Linked DNA regions of Homo sapiens: region 1 is linked to region 2. Evidence: fine-mapped expression QTL. A gene starts in region 2. The other region holds a variant in brackets. All regions are shown on one strand. Distances are from middle to middle. Region 1 overlaps B3GALT6 (beta-1,3-galactosyltransferase 6). Region 2 holds the start of TNFRSF18 (TNF receptor superfamily member 18).

What was found. PIP is the estimated chance that this variant, and not a neighbour inherited with it, causes the effect.
Region 1: its variant is fine-mapped to the expression of TNFRSF18 in whole blood (TOPMed, PIP above 0.99).

The regions. Positions count from the first base shown.
Region 1 is chr1:1,232,564-1,240,886 of GRCh38, reverse strand. It overlaps B3GALT6 (beta-1,3-galactosyltransferase 6), which reads right to left. Exons shown (of 1, transcript NM_080605.4): 1 at 5,846-8,323. The coding sequence ends at 7,619. Among named protein-coding and RNA genes, the nearest start is that of B3GALT6, 4.5 kb to the right of the region's middle. RefSeq lists enhancers at 6,283-6,784, 7,569-8,250, 8,251-8,323. The variant T/C (reference allele first, on the strand shown) is at 4,890.
Region 2 is chr1:1,201,894-1,210,165 of GRCh38, reverse strand. TNFRSF18 (TNF receptor superfamily member 18) reads left to right here and starts at 3,574. Exons shown (of 5, transcript NM_004195.3): 1 at 3,574-3,781; 2 at 4,674-4,796; 3 at 5,680-5,767; 4 at 5,930-6,132; 5 at 6,198-6,658. The coding sequence starts at 3,595. The coding sequence ends at 6,322. RefSeq lists silencers at 1,139-1,248, 1,829-1,918, 4,791-4,991 and an enhancer at 1,115-1,994.

The DNA.
Region 1 (8,323 bases), 31 kb before region 2:
CTCTAGGTTCTTCAGCAGCAGCCAGTCCCCCACCCTACCCAGTCCCGGAGGTAGGAGCTGTGATGACAGATGGACATGCCAGAAATGGGACCCAGGGCCGCGTAGAGCAAGATGGTGATGAGAGACAAAGAGACGTGGAGTGGTGGGGCGGGGGGCCGGGGCTGAATGAGTTGGGGGCCAGGGCCCGGGTGAATGGGGGCGGCGGGGGCTGGGGCAGGGACCACGGCCGGGGTGAATGAGGTGGGGGATGGGGGCTGGTCGGGGGTGGCTGGGGGCTGGCATGGGGGCCAGGGTGAATGGGGGGGGCTGGGGCCAGGGTGAATGGGGGGCGTGGGGATGTCCTGGTGCTGGCACCACCTCCCTGGCCTCTGCCTCCTGGTTTCTGCCCCAGTGGGAGGTGATCAGCCACTTAGCCGCAATTCCCCTGGAATGTGCCATCTCTAGCCCCCTCTGGGCACCCAGGAGCAAAGGAATGGACAGGTCGGGGTGGGGTGGGCGGCCTCACAGGAGGGTCCAGGCTCCCAGCCCACCCAGCCAAGGCTCCATCCTCTGGCCCAGCCCAGCTGCACCCCTTCATTCTCTCTCAGCCTCACCTCCTGGGCTGGACCCACACTGCAATGTTTGCCATAGAAGGGACCCTGGACTCTTGACGAGGGTGGGAGATGCCTGTCACTCACCCAGCCGGAGCGTGGGGTCCCCGGGGCAGGTGCAGGCCAGCCAGAGCTGCTGTTGCTTGGGGTCTGGGCTGGCTGGGGGACCTGGGGAGCCCAGGGAAACGGATCTCTTCAGGCCTGTGCCCCCCGGTTTGGGAGCTGGGGTATTGAGTGTCCCAAGCGTCTGGCAGCTTCGTGGACCCTGGCAGGAGCAAAGCCAGAGCAGCCGGCTACGTGCCGGACGGCCTCAACCCGACCCCTGACCCCTGACCCTTGACCCCATGCCCTGAGCGGCAGGGAGCTGCCGGCTTCTCCGTGACCTCCACCAGGGCTGACTTCCCAGAACCGCAGGCCGACCCTGCTGCCTGGCCGGGGCTGGGGGCATCGGACACTCCTGCCGTGGGCTCCCTGCCATCCTGGGAGGGGCCATGCCCGGTGCGGGGACACTCCCCCCACCAACCCTCCAGCTCGTCTGCTCACAGGACCAGCCCTTCCCTAGAGTCCCAGCGCTGGACCTGCCTGACCCACCCTGCCCCGGGGCTGCCTCGGCTGGGTCGGAGCCAGTATTCCCAGCCCTGGTGCTGTCCTGGTCTTGAATGGACAGAAATGCGGACGGGAGCTCAGGGCAGCCAGGAAGTCCTCTTGGGGCCAGGTGCGGCAGCCACCCTGAGGGGGCAGCAGGAGCCAGGGGAGGCAGGGCTGGGGGCTCCTGGCTGTGAGGAGGAGGCTGGGCCCCGCTCCGGCCCCGCCTGTCAGGTGTGGACACCATTGCCCATCCGTCCCCGGTGCCTCAAGGGCCCCACTGTTGGGGTACGTAGGAGATGCGGCTGCCCTGGCCTGGCCCCTGGGGGCGCCTGGGTGTGGACCCTGGGGCTGCAGCCAGGACAGGCAGGCGCTGGAGGCCCAGCTTTGGCATCTTGTCTTCGCATCCTTCTCCCCGCCTCTGTCACCCCTGCCGCCCCTGCCGCCCTGCAGCTGGGAGGGTGTCTGCTCCAAAGGCCCCTCGGACTGCCTGCCAGCCTCTCTGGAGTAAGCCCAGGGCGTTCCTGGGGCCTGTCCCAGACCCCAGACCACACCACACCTGGTGACCACTGTCATCTGGGCCTTGGAACAAGAATGGCCTGGGGGCATGTAGGGGCTGTGTAGGGTCCAAACAGACCTGCCTGCCCTGCTTTGTAAAAATCTATGTACCCAGGTGCCCCGTGTTGACCCCGGGTTGACAGTTGTGTGTCCCTGCGACTGGTGCGTGTGTGCCCACGTGTCTGCACATCTGTGTGGGTCTCTGCCCTGGGACTGGGACTCTCTACAGAGCCAGCAGCACGGCCCCCTTGAGAACAAACCCAGAACAGCCGTCCAGGACCCCGGGCCCGAGCGCTTGGCTGGCCACTCAGTGCCTGGAGCGGGCGTGGCCGGGGTCCCTGGCGTCCGGGAGGCCACATAGCTTCGGTCCTGCCAGGGACAGCAGAGGGGCCCATGGAGCTGTGACGGCTGCTTCGGCATGTGGGGCTCCCTGAACTGCGTGAAGGGGTCCAGGGACGGGGCTCCCACCCTCAGCTGGGGGCTGCTCAGCGCGCTGTCCCAAGGGGAAGCTCTTTCCTGCCTGCAGAGCGCTGCCCTGGGATCTGCTGTGCTCCGACGCCGCTGGGAGCTGGAGCTGGGGGCAGAGCTCGGCGCCGCGTCCTGGGGCCGTCGCTCACGGGCTGGGCTTGGCCAGTCTGTGCTTGGACTCCCAGTTCAGGTCACTCTGAGCTATGGTGACCTCAGGGCCTGTCCCCCAGGGGTCTCCCTCAGCCTGACCCTGACCCAGGAATGGCAGCGTGTCTGGTTGCGGGAACACGCCCTGGCCCTGCCTGTGCCTGCCGAGCCACCGGCGTGTCTGTCCGCCTGCGCATCTGACTGCTGTACAGGTGGGCCTGGCACCAGAGGCCTGGGGACAAAGGGTCTTTGTTTGGGAGGCTGGGGGCAGCCCCTGCTCTGGGCCAGTGACTCACGGGTGCCCGGGCGTGATGATATCTGTGTTGCGACAGCCAGGTGTCATGCGTGTGACCCAGCCCAGCAGGGCCTCCTGCCCACCCCGCCCGCGCCCACGGCCCTCACTTGGGGGTGACGAGAAGCGTGACAGGTGGGGGCTGGGCAAACCCCGTCTCCGCAGGGAAGCGTCTCCAGACCCCTTGGGCCCCCAGCCCGCACGCCCGGGCCTCTCCCTGCCACACAGGAGTGTGCAAAACACATCTCTGCAGCAGGAGGCACCACGGCCGGACTCAGGCCCTCGGGACGGGTGCTTTTTAGGCTGAGTTCAGCTGTTCCTGGGTCGGAAGGTCTGGGTGAGGCGGTTGAGGGTGAGGCACCGTGACCGTCGCCCCGGCGGGGACTTGGGCCTGGCTCTGCCCATCCCTCACTCTCTCTCCGGTCTGAGGTGGGCGGTGGCGGGTGCGGGGCCCCTGGGGGAGGCTGGGGCCGCTGAGACCTTCGGATGCCACCGGAGGGAGGGCCTGGGGCTTGGGTTTCCTTCTGCTCCAGTCACCGGGCTGGGTCCGGCCCTGGGTCAGCGGGGAGGGGAGCTGGACTGCGGCCCTCCTGGGCTCCTGTCCTGCCTGCCCGGCCGGCCCTGGAAGATCTGCGGCCACCTGTGTTTACTCTGGAGGATGCAGCTGAGGAGGTCCTGGCAGGGCCACACTCGTAACCCCTGGCTTCTCAGCTGTGGGCGCGGTCTTGCACCCTGGCTAGCTGAGTTGAGGGGACTTTGCGGCATCTGTGGCCCCGACCAGGGCAGAGTACCCGAGCCCCAGCCCAAGGAGAGGCCTCGCTGGGCAACGCGACCAGGACAGAGGCCGAGGCTGGATGGGTGGGGAGCGCCTGGGGCCTTCCAGATCCTCCTTCCTGCCCCTCCCGCCTCCACCTCCCTTCAGCCCCTTGGCTGCAGCCAGCTCTCCTGGGATCACTCATCCACTGTCTACCTCCACTGGGAACCTCGGTGAGGGAGGCTCAGATCCTTGGGGAGGGAGGAGGGGGTGGGCCCCAGAGAGACCTTCCGAGGAGGACAGGGTGGGGCCAGATCTTGGTTCTTCTCCTCGGGTGGTTCTGACCTGGCCAGCGTGGTGCAGTGTGGCCATCAGGGCAGGGCTAGCGGCACCAGCATCTAGCAGGGAGGGTGCGGAGGGCAGGGAGGCCAGAGAAGGAGGGGCTGTGAGTGCTGGGGGTGGGGACCCACCCTGGCCCTGAGGGAAAGGAGTGTGTACACCCACAGAGGCCAACTTGATGGGGTGGCCTGGGTTTCAGCTCCCAAGGCTGTGGGAAGGTCCTCTGGGTGGGGGCTGGGAGGAGACCTCAAGGGGAGGCCCAGGGGTTTGGGCTGTGCCCCCTCAAAAGCCTCCTCTTTGAGGACCCCAGAGATTGGCCAGGCCTGTGGGATGGACACAGAGGTCTTTCCCCTCAGCCCACAGTGGGAGAGGGAGACGCCAGCTCACCTCAGAGTAGGAAACCAGGAAAAAGCGCCAAGCCCTTCCCAGGCCCCTGAAACCAGGGAGCAGGCCCCACACAGCCAGTCCAAGGAGCTGGAAACTTCTGACAGGCTGCTGTGGGCCCAGGAAGCAGGGCCTTGCGCGAACAAGGGGCCTCCTCTCTCCTCCCGGCCCCGCTCTGGGTGCGGAGGGCCTGGCACGCACCTGTCTCTGGCCACCTGCTCCCGAGGACTCCCCAAGCCGTCTGGGCCGCTGGGGCTTCCATTCCTGCAACGTCAGCTGGTCTCACAGTGCCACAGCTGGGGAGCCTGGGGCCGGTGGGGCCACAGGAGGGCCGTGACCCCCTTAGACCTGAGGACTCTGAGCTGGGACAGTCAGCCAGGGAGAGGGTGGAAGAGTCTGGGGTGACCCAGGCCGCGGGGGCAGCCCTGCTGCAGGCTGGACTGATGGAGGCCTGCCGGGAACAGGGTGTGTGCTGAGCCCTGCGGGGAGGAGATCTGGGCCCAGTCAGTGCTGGGCGTCTGTGATGCCACAAGGTTGCAGGAGCCCCTGCCTGCGTCTGCACCGAAGAGCGCCGGGCACAGGGAACTGGGCTGGCATCCTGGGGCTGCTGGACGGGGCGTCTTCCCTCGCAGCCCTGGAGGCCACGCTCCTGACTCTGGGTAGAGCCCTTCCTTGCCTGGTGGGGTGGGGGTGGAGGGTCCTCAATCCTTGGCCTGCAGAGGCATCGCCTGGGTGTCAGTCTCTAGCCACACAGTGGCTTTTTCCCAGGTCT[T/C]TTCTGGTAAGGACACCAGTTCCGTGGGAGTAAGGCCACCTCAGGACCTTGCCTTAACGCAATTCCACCTGCAGAGACCCGACTTCCAGACAAGGTCAGTTTGTAGCTGCTGGGTTAGGGCTTGGAATATCTTTTAGGGGGCACAGTTCAGTCCCGTAACAGGAGCCTTGACAGCCAGGATCCCAGCCAGACACAGGTGGGCAGGTGGGAACCTGGAGGCCTCAGGGGCGGGGGTGCCTCCGGATGCAGGTAGCACTTTGCATCTTGGGGGTGACCAACCAGGCCACAGGCCCGGCGGGTACCCAGGGCTGGCCCAGAGAGCTGGAGCCAACGTCAGGTGCCTGCATGCCAGCCTCAGGGGGCAGAGAGGCAGGACCATAGTCCCCAGGAAGAGGGCAGAAGGGGGTGCTCTCCTCCTGGGGGATCCTGAAGGGACCAGAGCCCATCCTCTTGGCTTGACCTGCATTCCCTGCCGGCCCTGTGCCTCCTGGGGGCTGTGTGCGTGTGGCTGCGCCGTGCCCGTCCAGCCCTGACACTGTCCCCTCCATGGTAGGTTCTCGGGGCCACTAGAGGAGAAACATCCGTGTGGCTGAGGAAGAGTTGGCTGTTTTGTATCCCAAGTTCCCACATGGAAATGAATTCGGTGACCCCCCATCTCCCGAGGGCCTCCTGGTTTGGCCCTGGTCTCCGGGAACCGAGTACCTGGGTGGGTGGGGAGCTGTACAAGCTAAGACCAGGGAAGGACGCCTGGGGGACGGATGCCACGGCCCGTGCACGGTCGATTGGAGCCGCAGGGCAGGGAGGATCTACAGGGCAAGTTCCAGGTGAGACCAGAGAGAGCTGCAGCTGCCCCGGCTCTGGAAGCCCCCAGCCCTCCCGAGGCCCAGCCTTCAGCCCACGTATCCTCTGAACCCGTTCACCACGGTACGGCTGGGGAGGGTCAGCCTGGGGCAGGCTTTGTTCTGATATGAAATTTAATGTCTTAGGCTGAAAAACACTAAATTTCCATTTTTTTGTAGGTCAGAAGTGGTTGCAAACTGGATTTTTAGACTCTTCCTGTTGGGGGTCTCGGACATTTGCTCTTTTCCACAGCGGCCAATTCTTCAGAGCCACAAAGAACTGGGCGACGCAGGCCAGAGGTGTGGGAGTCCAGCCCTTGGTTCGAATCCCGCTCTCCACTGTCCATGGGGTTCTCAGCAAGCCCTCTGGCCTCTCCAAGCACACGCAGGGTTCCTCAAGCAATTCCAAACTCCAGAGAAGACATCCCAGGTAAAATCGGATGGCAGGGACCTGGGACACCGCTGTGACGGGCAGCCCCTGGGCTCGAGTCCACAACTCCCACGGGAGGGCAGGGCCCCATCCTGCTCACACCGGGGTCCCCAGCCCTCGATCCTCACGAGTCCTCGTCCAAGAACAAACTGTGCACACACGGGCGGTCAGTCCTGGATTCAAGGTGGCCCATCGGAGCTCGAACTCAACGGCCTGACCTAGGGACGCCTCCAGTCCCACCCCTACCTTTTGGAGGTGGGAGAATCACCGTGCAGGTCACTGACCCACTGACCACAGATCACCACTCTCTCCCGCCCCCGTTTCTTCCTCCTGAGACCACTGCTGCCTTCAAACGCAAGTAACCCAAACCTGCTCCCAAACCCATGGCAAGACTGACCCGGAGCCTAACCCAGCCCTGCCCCGAGCCTGACCCTGATGCTCGAGACTAGACCCCAGACTGGACCCGGTCCCAAAGTGGGACAACAAAGACCACAGCGGGGACCACCCAGGTCCCCCAGAGAGAAAACCCGCGTCGGACTCCAGGGAGCTCATGGTAACCCCTTGTCCTGGGGCAGCTTCATTTTACTTTGGCAAGGACCGCAGTGTTCGCTTTTCTCATTAAACGAGGGGCTTTCAAGGATGTGTTAAAGTACGTGAGAGACGGGCCTGGTGCCGGCTGGTCCTGTTTTCTTAAGGCGGAAGTTGGGGAACCGCGTCAGCACTCCGGGGTTCGGATTCCTGGAACCTGGGGCAGAGTCTGAAATAAAGCAGCACCGGCCCTGTGTGGCGCGGACCCATGGGAAGCCTTGAAAGGAAAGTCTCTTCAGAAAGAAACAATGGGTTCAGTGACTTGTACACTGAAAAGATAGATGGCCAGTTTTAAAGTTCTCCTGCGTTTAAACACGGGCAGCAGCGGGGTTGACGGTACAGGCACCAAGTTCTGACATAAAAGTCTTTCCTTAAATCATGTAAAAAAACCGAGACGTGCGCACTGCCAACTTACACTCATCGACACAAACTTACAATATTTATAAATAAGTCGCAAGCAAACACTGAGTTACATTTACCACGAAGTCACTGGACAGAGACCAAAATCCCATGAAAGCGGATTGATGTGAAACCACGTTAGATCTGAGACGCAGACGTGAGAAACGCCACTGATAAGAGACACGGAAGATCGGAGCCCAGCCCCGTGAGCCGGTCGGGGACAGCACGGGGGTCAGCGTGCGGCCGGGCCCGGCTCAGGCTCGCTGAGGTCCAGGAACGGGCACCTCCACCTGGACACGGCGCGCTGCCCCGGCAACCCCCAGGGGTCTCCCAAACGCAGACCGGGACGCAGCGACCACAAGCGTGGCTGCGGGACGGGGGCCTTGGGGCCCGGGCGTAGTGCGCCCGCTCGGCACCTGCCCCAAGGCGCCGCCGGGTGAAGCAGGTGTCCCGGAGGGCCGGGCCGCGGCGGCTCAGGGGATGCCCTCCCTTCTCTGGCAGCACTGCGAGGGCGGCGCGGACCAGTCGTACACGTAGGACAGGCGCAGCTGCACCTCGCGCTTGCACAGGCGGCCCTCGCGCGCCAGCGTCGCGTGCTTCTCCAGCATGTCCTCCAGGCTCTGCTTGTGCGTCACCAGGTACTGGTTGCTGCAGCCGCGGGACCGGTATTCGGTGTCGAAGCGCGGGTCGTGCTCCCGCTGGACGTCCACCGGCGCCAGCCAGGCGCCCAGAGACACGTCCTCGCTGTGCCAGGCGCGCAGGTAGTCGCGGCTGAGGCGCAGGTAGTGCACCAGGTCGGCCGAGAGCACGTAGCCGCCGCCCAGCGCGTAGGGCAGGTAGTAGTCGCAGAGTTGCCAGGCGGCCTCGCGCCAGCGCCCCCCCGGCTTGACGCGGCCGCGGCCCGAGAAGAAGCCCCAGTAGAGGCGGCGGCGGCGCGCGGGCTCGCGGGCGCGCAGCTCGGCCAGCAGCGCGTCCAGCCGCGCGAAGGAGTCGTCGTCCGCCTTGAGCACGAACTCGAAGGCCACGTGCTCGTCCAGCCAGGCCAGCATGGCCAGCACCTTGGCCGTGAGGTTTTCGTAGGCGTCGCGCAGCGCGGGCAGCAGCAGCAGGTCCCCGTGCCGCGCCTGCTCCCGCTCCAGGGCGCGCCGCTCCTCGGCGCCCAGGCCGGCCGTGCCCAC
Region 2 (8,272 bases):
GAGAAACACTCCCGAGGGCTAAGACGTCTCACTGCACTTGTTTTTTCTTTCTTTTTTTTTTTTTGCCGGAGTCTTGCTGTGTCACCCAGGCTGGAGTGCAGTGGTGTGATCTCAGCTCACCAACCTCTGCCTCCCGGGTTCACGCCATTCTCCTGCCTCAGCCTCCCAAGTAGCTGGGACTACAGGCGCCCAGCACCACACCCGGCTAATTTTTGTATTTTATTAGAGACAGGGTTTCACCATGTTGGCTAAGCTGGTCTTGAACTCCTGACCTCAGGTGATCCACCTGCCTCGGTGCCCTGGAGTACTGCGATTCCAGGTGTGAGCCACCACGCCTGGCCCTCACTGCACTCATGAGCAAGAAACACACAGCCGAGGCCGGTCACGGTGGCTCACGCCTAGAATCCTAGCACTTTGGGAGGCTGAGGCCAGACGATCGTCTGAGCTCAGGAGTTTGAGACCCGCCTGGGTAACATGGCAAGACCCTTTTCTATGAAAAATAGAAAAAATCAGCCGGGTGTGGTGGTGCATGCCTGTGGTCCCGGCTACTTGGGAGGCCGAGGTGGGAGGATCACTTGAGCCCAAGAGATGGAGGCTGCAGTGAGACGTGACTGGAAAAAAAAAAAGAAATTTAAAAAAATTACTTAAGAAGAAACACATGAAGCCTCATGGAAGGTTTTGCTGAGGGCCTGGCACAGCCTGGACACTCCGGCTACCGTGGCTGGTGTGGCCCAGCCCCGCAGCTGCACCCGCTGCCCCACACAGCGTCCCTGGGCCAGCCTTCCCTCTCCCTGCGTCCTCCAACAGCGCACGCTGCCCACGGCTGTCCAGGCCTCCTGTGCCTGGCGGATGGCTCCCCCCTGCCGGTGTCGTGGAAGTGGGGAACCGGCCCCGGGGGTGCACAGTGGGAGCGCCACGCGCCACTCACAACAGCCCAAGGTGCCGGGACCACAGGTGGCTGTAAGGAAGACGCCCATCTCTGGCCTCGGGCTGCCCTGGACCCCTCCTGCCTCTGCAGCTGGTTTTCTCCCCTGGGTCTCTCTCTCCTCAAACCTCTGTCTTCCACCCACTCTCTGCTAACCACAAGCCTCCCCCCCCGCAGCATAGGGAAGTCAGAGGCCGTCCTGTCCCCCATCCAGCACCTTCACCGAGTTCCCCGGGTTCCTGCACACGGTTCAGCCTGCAGGCCCTGCACAGGGTTGGGGCCGCGCCTCTGAGAGCCCCCCGCCCCCCGCCCCGTGGGGCAGGCGAGGCCAGACCTCCAGGCAGGATGGCGGGTGGGTGGGGGAAGGGGTCAGGTGGCCGGGACTGGAGCGGCCAGATCCTGTGGGGCCCGCAGGTCGACGGCTATGGGAAAGGGGCCTCCTCCCCAAACCTGGCGCCCATACCCATCGCTTCCTGTCTCCTCCCCTCTGGGCACAGCACCCCCCAGGCCCCGTGGGACTTATTCCCCAGCAGGACCCCTTGCCGCACCCCCAGATGGACACGGGGCCACCTCCTCTTGGTCTCCATGCTCACCCTCCCCGCCCCCTCGCCTGACGCCATCTCTGCTGGCAACTCCTGTGCCATCTGTGCCGAAGGCCCTGCCTGAACTCTGGCTCAGTGCCCATCTGCACCCTCCCCGTGGGGCCTCACAGCTGCCCTTCTGGACGTACGCAAGGGCTGTCCCTCGCCCGGCCCGTGGGCTGCTCTGCTGTGTGAATGCCCCGTCATTTGTGTCACCGGTGAGCTGCTCAATAAGATGAACAAGTCACCTCCAGCCTCGCAGCCCAAGGATAGGAGTCACGGGGAGCCGGGGAGGGGCCTTCTGCGGCGAGAGGGATGGGAGGGTGGACGTCACACCCCTGCAGCCCCTCCGGGGACCACCCTGTGTGGCAAGCTGCTCTCCGGCTGTTCAAAGTGTCAGCTGCGCCACGGGGCGGGGGGGAGGGGCTCCTCTGCCCGCTGGCCGCCTCCCACTTGGCCCCATAAACTGCTCGCTCCTCTAACTCTGTCCCTGCCTCTAGATGGATGACTCACACCGTGTGGTCTGATGAGCATTCTTTATTTTTTGTGATGGAGTCTCGCTCTGTCACCCAGGCTGGAGTGCAATGGTGCCATCTTGGTTCGCCGCAACCTCTGCCTCCCAGGTTCAAGCAATTCTCCTGCCTCAGCCTCCCGAGTAGCTGGGATTACAGGCGTGCGCCACCACGCCTGGCTAATTTTTTTTGTATTTTTAGTAGAGACGGGCTTTCTCCATGTGGGTCAGGCTGGTCTCGAACCCCTGACCTCAGGTGATCCGAGGCCCACCTCGGCCTCCCAAAATGCTGGGATTACGGGCGTGAGCCACTGATGGCGCCTCTTTCTATCCAGGGGCCCAGACCCCCTCCCAGCCTCGGGGCTGAAGATCTCCAGGCCTCTCAAAGGCCCCCAGGCCCAGCTGGCCCCACCCCTTTCCTTCCGAGCGTCGGGGCGGCCTGGAGCTGCAGAGACCCCTTCCTTCTCTGCAGTGTCTGAGGGCTGCCTCTCCAAGGCAGGCTCCTACATCTTGGATTTGAGAACTCCGGGGTGTCACAAACAGCTAATTCCTGTCATTTACCTTGGAAAAGGAGGAACCGCCTTACGGGGTGAGGCGGTGGCTGCAGGTCTCAAAAGGGTGTTGAACCACATCCACGCTCACGTTCCCGAGAGCCCCCACCCCCAGCATTCATGGGGGTCTCCACCTGTGCTGGACGGCGCAGAAGCAGGGCTGGGCAATCCAGGGAGGCTTCCTGGTGGAGGCAGGGTCCCAGAACCCCTCGGTGCCCACAGGGGAAACTGAGGCTCAGAAAGACATAGGACAGTCTCCCAAGAGCTCTGCGAGGGGCTCCTCCTCAACTCCCTCCGGGACCTGGATCTGTCTGGTGTGACGGATGAAGGTGGCTCTGAGAGACCGGGCCCTGGGTGCCCGCGGGGGCGGCTGACACTGTCCCGAGGAGGCGCCAGCACCCTCTCGTCTCCCCACCAGCTCCTCCTGGTGCCCCTCCCAAGCCCCGGGGAACTTCCCAGGTTGGCCTGAGGGGGGTCCTGGAGAGCTGCAAGCAAGGGGGAGGGGAGCCCACAGGCCTGCAGCCCATGGTGAGTTTCACACCTGAAGCCAGCCAGGTGGGGTGTGCTGAGCCGAGGGGTCCCTGTCCCCATTCTGTGGGGTTCCCCAGCACGGGGCTCCATGGTTGAGGCTCTCTGGGGGTGGCCAGAATTTGTGGAGACCTCTCGGGGACTCGCAGATACCACCCGGAGGCAGTGGGATGGAGGAGTGATTGGCTGACCCCCGCCCTCCAAGGGGCCCCCATGGGACAAGGTGCTATAAACGCCGCCCCCTGCACTGGGGACACCAATGTGGCCGCAGACTTTGCATAGAAAACCTTTCTGATCCCCGCCAGCCTGGTTTCCCCGCCCCTGCCGGCGACCTGCGGGGGACCGGGCTGTGTCCGCAGTGTCTACACCCCCTCCTCACACGCACTTCACCTGGGTCGGGATTCTCAGGTCATGAACGGTCCCAGCCACCTCCGGGCAGGGCGGGTGAGGACGGGGACGGGGCGTGTCCAACTGGCTGTGGGCTCTTGAAACCCGAGCATGGCACAGCACGGGGCGATGGGCGCGTTTCGGGCCCTGTGCGGCCTGGCGCTGCTGTGCGCGCTCAGCCTGGGTCAGCGCCCCACCGGGGGTCCCGGGTGCGGCCCTGGGCGCCTCCTGCTTGGGACGGGAACGGACGCGCGCTGCTGCCGGGTTCACACGACGCGCTGCTGCCGCGATTACCCGGGTAAGTAAACCGCGTTTACTTAACGCGGACCGGCCAAGGCGTCCCGCGGAAGCCGGGATGGGTGGGCGCCCCCCTTCCCGTGCTCAGACCGGCGTTGCTGAGGTCTAAGGAGGGTGGGCACAGAGCCGCCAGCAGCGGGAGCCTTCCGGAGGGAGGCAGGATCCCAGAGGGAGGCGGAGGTGTGCCAGCTCCAGCCAGTGGCCCCGGCCGGGAGCAGGGGTGAGCCAGGTGGGAGCGCCCTCAAGAGGGGTCTGGGGTCTGGAGGTGGAGGACGGCTGTTCCAGGTCCTGCTGGGCGGGTCGTGAGCCCTTGGCCATCGCCCAGCCCCCTCCTGCCCAGTTGAGGGCCCCCCTGCACCACCGTCTGGCCTGCTGCCTGCCTCTGACCTGCACCTGGGGATGAGGGTTCAGCTGACACGGCTGGTCTGGAGAGGAAGCTGGCAGGGAAGTCACCCCAGAGCTTCTTCCTCCAGGGCCTGTGGGTTGGGAAGGGAGGCTCTGTCCGGAGGCCCAGTGTGGCTGGTGGTGGGGACAGCAGCGCCCAGACACCAGGCAGGCGGCCTCTGAGGTGTCGACGGGCCTCCAGGGGACTGTGCACTGTTGGGGGCCACCCCTGGGTCCTGCAGGGGCAGCTCCTGGTTGCATATGGAGTTAGCACCTGGGCAGGGGCAGCTGTGGGGCGCAAAGGGGGAGTAGCCAGGCCACATGGCCCCAGGAGAAAGAGACAGCTGGATAAACCCAGGGTCCAGACTCCCAGCCAGGAGCCCTCTGCTCCCTGGAGCCAACTGTGGGTGGAGAACGGACAACCTCACTCCCCTGGAGGGCCGAGGGGAGGCCTGGGGAGGAGGGGGCCTCAGCCCAGCTGCTGGGGGGCTGGCCTGTCTCCTGCCCAGGCGAGGAGTGCTGTTCCGAGTGGGACTGCATGTGTGTCCAGCCTGAATTCCACTGCGGAGACCCTTGCTGCACGACCTGCCGGCACCACCCTTGTCCCCCAGGCCAGGGGGTACAGTCCCAGGGTAAGTCCTGGAGGTGCCTCTGGGAGTCCACACAGGCCAGGGGTTCCACTAGGGCCCGAGGCAGAGCTCGTGGGCACAGGTGTCCGGCGAGGACATGTGGTGTGTGGGGTCCGGAGTCCTGTGAGGCCGGGCAGGCCAGGCCATGCTCAGGCACCACAGGCCATGAAGCTCTGGGGGTGTCCTGTCCCTGCTTTCTCAGCCTGGGCTTCTCCATCCAGCACGAGGGCTGTGAGAACCCTGCGGGGAGGTGGGGGCGGGTTCCAGGAGCTGTCTGGCTCTCAGGCCCGGGACACCCATCCTGTCTGTCCTCACCACATACTGAAAGAGCCTGCCCTGTGCCCCCCGGAGTCCTGTCTGGGGCCTGGGGCTGCACCCTGTTCTGGAAGGAGCAGCTCAAGTCCTCTTAGCGGCTTGTTTACCTGACAGGAGAGGTCAGGCTGGGCACATGAGAGCTGGGAGAAGGTACAACTGGGGAGGTTGTGTCAGGTTGGACGGGGCAGGGTCTGGGGTCAACTGGGACCCAGCCTCACTCTCTCTGGGACCCTCACTGTTCTCCACCCTCTGTTCTACTGGGTCCTGCCTGGCTTCTGCCCACCCTCAGCCCCCAATGGGCAGGCCTTTCCCCTCCCTGGCAGGCCCACTGCACTCTGCGCACCTCCCCCAGGTGCCCTCACTGGGCCCCACCCCAGACGCCCCACCTGGGACGGGCAGACATGGGCCCCAGTCCTGGGCCATGAAGAACTCTGTTGAATGGATGATGGGGGGGGCATTCTACTCAGCACCCAGACCCCAGATGGACCCCTGCACTGGCCTGACGCCCTCCTCATCCATCCCAGCAACTCCACCAGCCTCCCTCCCTCCCTCCCCCCACACCCCACACCAGGGAAATTCAGTTTTGGCTTCCAGTGTATCGACTGTGCCTCGGGGACCTTCTCCGGGGGCCACGAAGGCCACTGCAAACCTTGGACAGAGTGAGTCCTGGGTGGGCCCTGCCGGTGGCCGGGTGGTCCAGGCCCACTCTGAGGAAGGGTCCTCTCCTGTCCCTTGCCCCAGACAGCACGGAGGGCAGCAGCCGGGGGCTGATCGGAGGCCGTGTCCGGGGGCTGATAGGAGGCCGCGTCCATGTATTCCAGCTGCACCCAGTTCGGGTTTCTCACTGTGTTCCCTGGGAACAAGACCCACAACGCTGTGTGCGTCCCAGGGTCCCCGCCGGCAGAGCCGCTTGGGTGGCTGACCGTCGTCCTCCTGGCCGTGGCCGCCTGCGTCCTCCTCCTGACCTCGGCCCAGCTTGGACTGCACATCTGGCAGCTGAGGAGTCAGTGCATGTGGCCCCGAGGTCTGTCACAGCCTGGTGCGGGGAGGTGGGAGCATGGCTGCCTGCTGACCGTGGCCCCCCTGCAGAGACCCAGCTGCTGCTGGAGGTGCCGCCGTCGACCGAAGACGCCAGAAGCTGCCAGTTCCCCGAGGAAGAGCGGGGCGAGCGATCGGCAGAGGAGAAGGGGCGGCTGGGAGACCTGTGGGTGTGAGCCTGGCCGTCCTCCGGGGCCACCGACCGCAGCCAGCCCCTCCCCAGGAGCTCCCCAGGCCGCAGGGGCTCTGCGTTCTGCTCTGGGCCGGGCCCTGCTCCCCTGGCAGCAGAAGTGGGTGCAGGAAGGTGGCAGTGACCAGCGCCCTGGACCATGCAGTTCGGCGGCCGCGGCTGGGCCCTGCAGGAGGGAGAGAGAGACACAGTCATGGCCCCCTTCCTCCCTTGCTGGCCCTGATGGGGTGGGGTCTTAGGACGGGAGGCTGTGTCCGTGGGTGTGCAGTGCCCAGCACGGGACCCGGCTGCAGGGGACCTTCAATAAACACTTGTCCAGTGACCTGAGTGGATGCATGCTGGGTGCTGGGGGAGGACGGGGCACCCGGGGCTGGGCTTTGGGGCACCGTGCTCATGCCTGGCCGTGGTCCCCTCCACAGGGGGCAAAGCGGAGGGCAGCCAGGGCCCATTCTGGGAACTCCTGGCTGGGTGGGGGTGGGGCCCGAGGAGGGGCCATTCCAGTCCTGGGCCCAGCGCTCCTCAGGGATACAGGCTCAGCGGCTTCCCCCGTTCTGGGGCTCTTCTCTGGTGCCCCTGGGTCTCTGGTTTCTGGCCACACAGCCTGCCGGCCCCCGGGTGCCATCCAGCACTTTCTGGTGCTGGGCGGCCCCGTCTCCAGGCCAGCCCTCTCTCCTCACCATCCCACCCTCGGCCCGCCCAGCCTCCCACTCCAGGCTCCAGGTGAGATCTGATACAGGCTCCCTCAGCTGCCGGGGAGTGGCGGGCAGGCTGGTGCAGGCGTCTCAGCAGCACCCTGGAGGCACAGCACACCTGGCCCCCAGCTCAGCTCCCAGTGGGGCGGTGGGCCCAGCTCACAGTAGGTGGACGGGGCAGAGGGGACGTCTGCTCCCCTCCCCCCCCAACATGGGACCTGGAGTGTGGAGAGCCCAAGGGTGGCACAGGGACACTGGGGAAGGTGCTCAGCCCTGGAGGCAGGACCCGGCCCTTCGGCGTCGTGGAGTACTGGGCTCGGGGCTGGGTACTGGGCTTGGGGATGGGTACTGGGCTGGAGGCTGGGTACTGGGCTCGGGGATGGGTACTGGGCTGGAGGCTGGGTACTGGGCTAGAGGCTGGGTACTGGGCTCGGGGCTGGGTACTGGGCTGGAGGCTGGGTACTGGGCTCGGGGATGGGTACTGGGCTGGAGGCTGGGTACTGGGCTCGGGGATGGGTACTGGGCTGGAGGCTGGGTACTGGGCTCGGGGATGGGTACTGGGCTGGAGGCTGGGTGCTGGGCTCGGGGCTGGGTACTGGGCTCGGGGCTGGGTACTGGGCTCGGGGCTGGGTACTGGGCTGGGGGCTGGGTACTGGGCTCGGGGCTGGGTACTGGGCTGGAGGCTGGGTACTGGGCTGGAGGCTGGGTACTGGGCTGGGGGCTGGGTACTGGGCTCGGGGCTGGGTACTGGGCTGGAGGCTGGGTACTGGGCTCGGGGCTGGGTACTGGGCTGGAGGCTGGGTACTGGGCTGGGGGCTGGGTACTGGGCTCGGGGCTGGGTACTGGGCTGGGGGCTGGGTACTGGGCTGGAGGCTGGGTACTGGGCTCGGGGCTGGGTACTGGGCTGGAGGCTGGGTACTGGGCTCGGGGCTGGGTACTGGGCTGGAGGCTGGGTACTGGGCTCGGGGCTGGGTACTGGGCTGGAGGCTGGGTACTGGGCTCGGGGCTGGGTACTGGGCTGGAGGCTGGGTACTGGGCTCGGGGCTGGGTACTGGGCTGGAGGCTGGGTACTGGGCTCGGGGCTGGGTACTGGGCTGGAGGCTGGGTACTGGGCTCGGGGCTGGGTACTGGGCTGGAGGCTGGGTACTGGGCTCGGGGCTGGGTACTGGGCTGGAGGCTGGGTACTGGGCTCGGGGCTGGGTACTGGGCTGGAGGCTGGGTACTGGGCTCGGGGCTGGGTACTG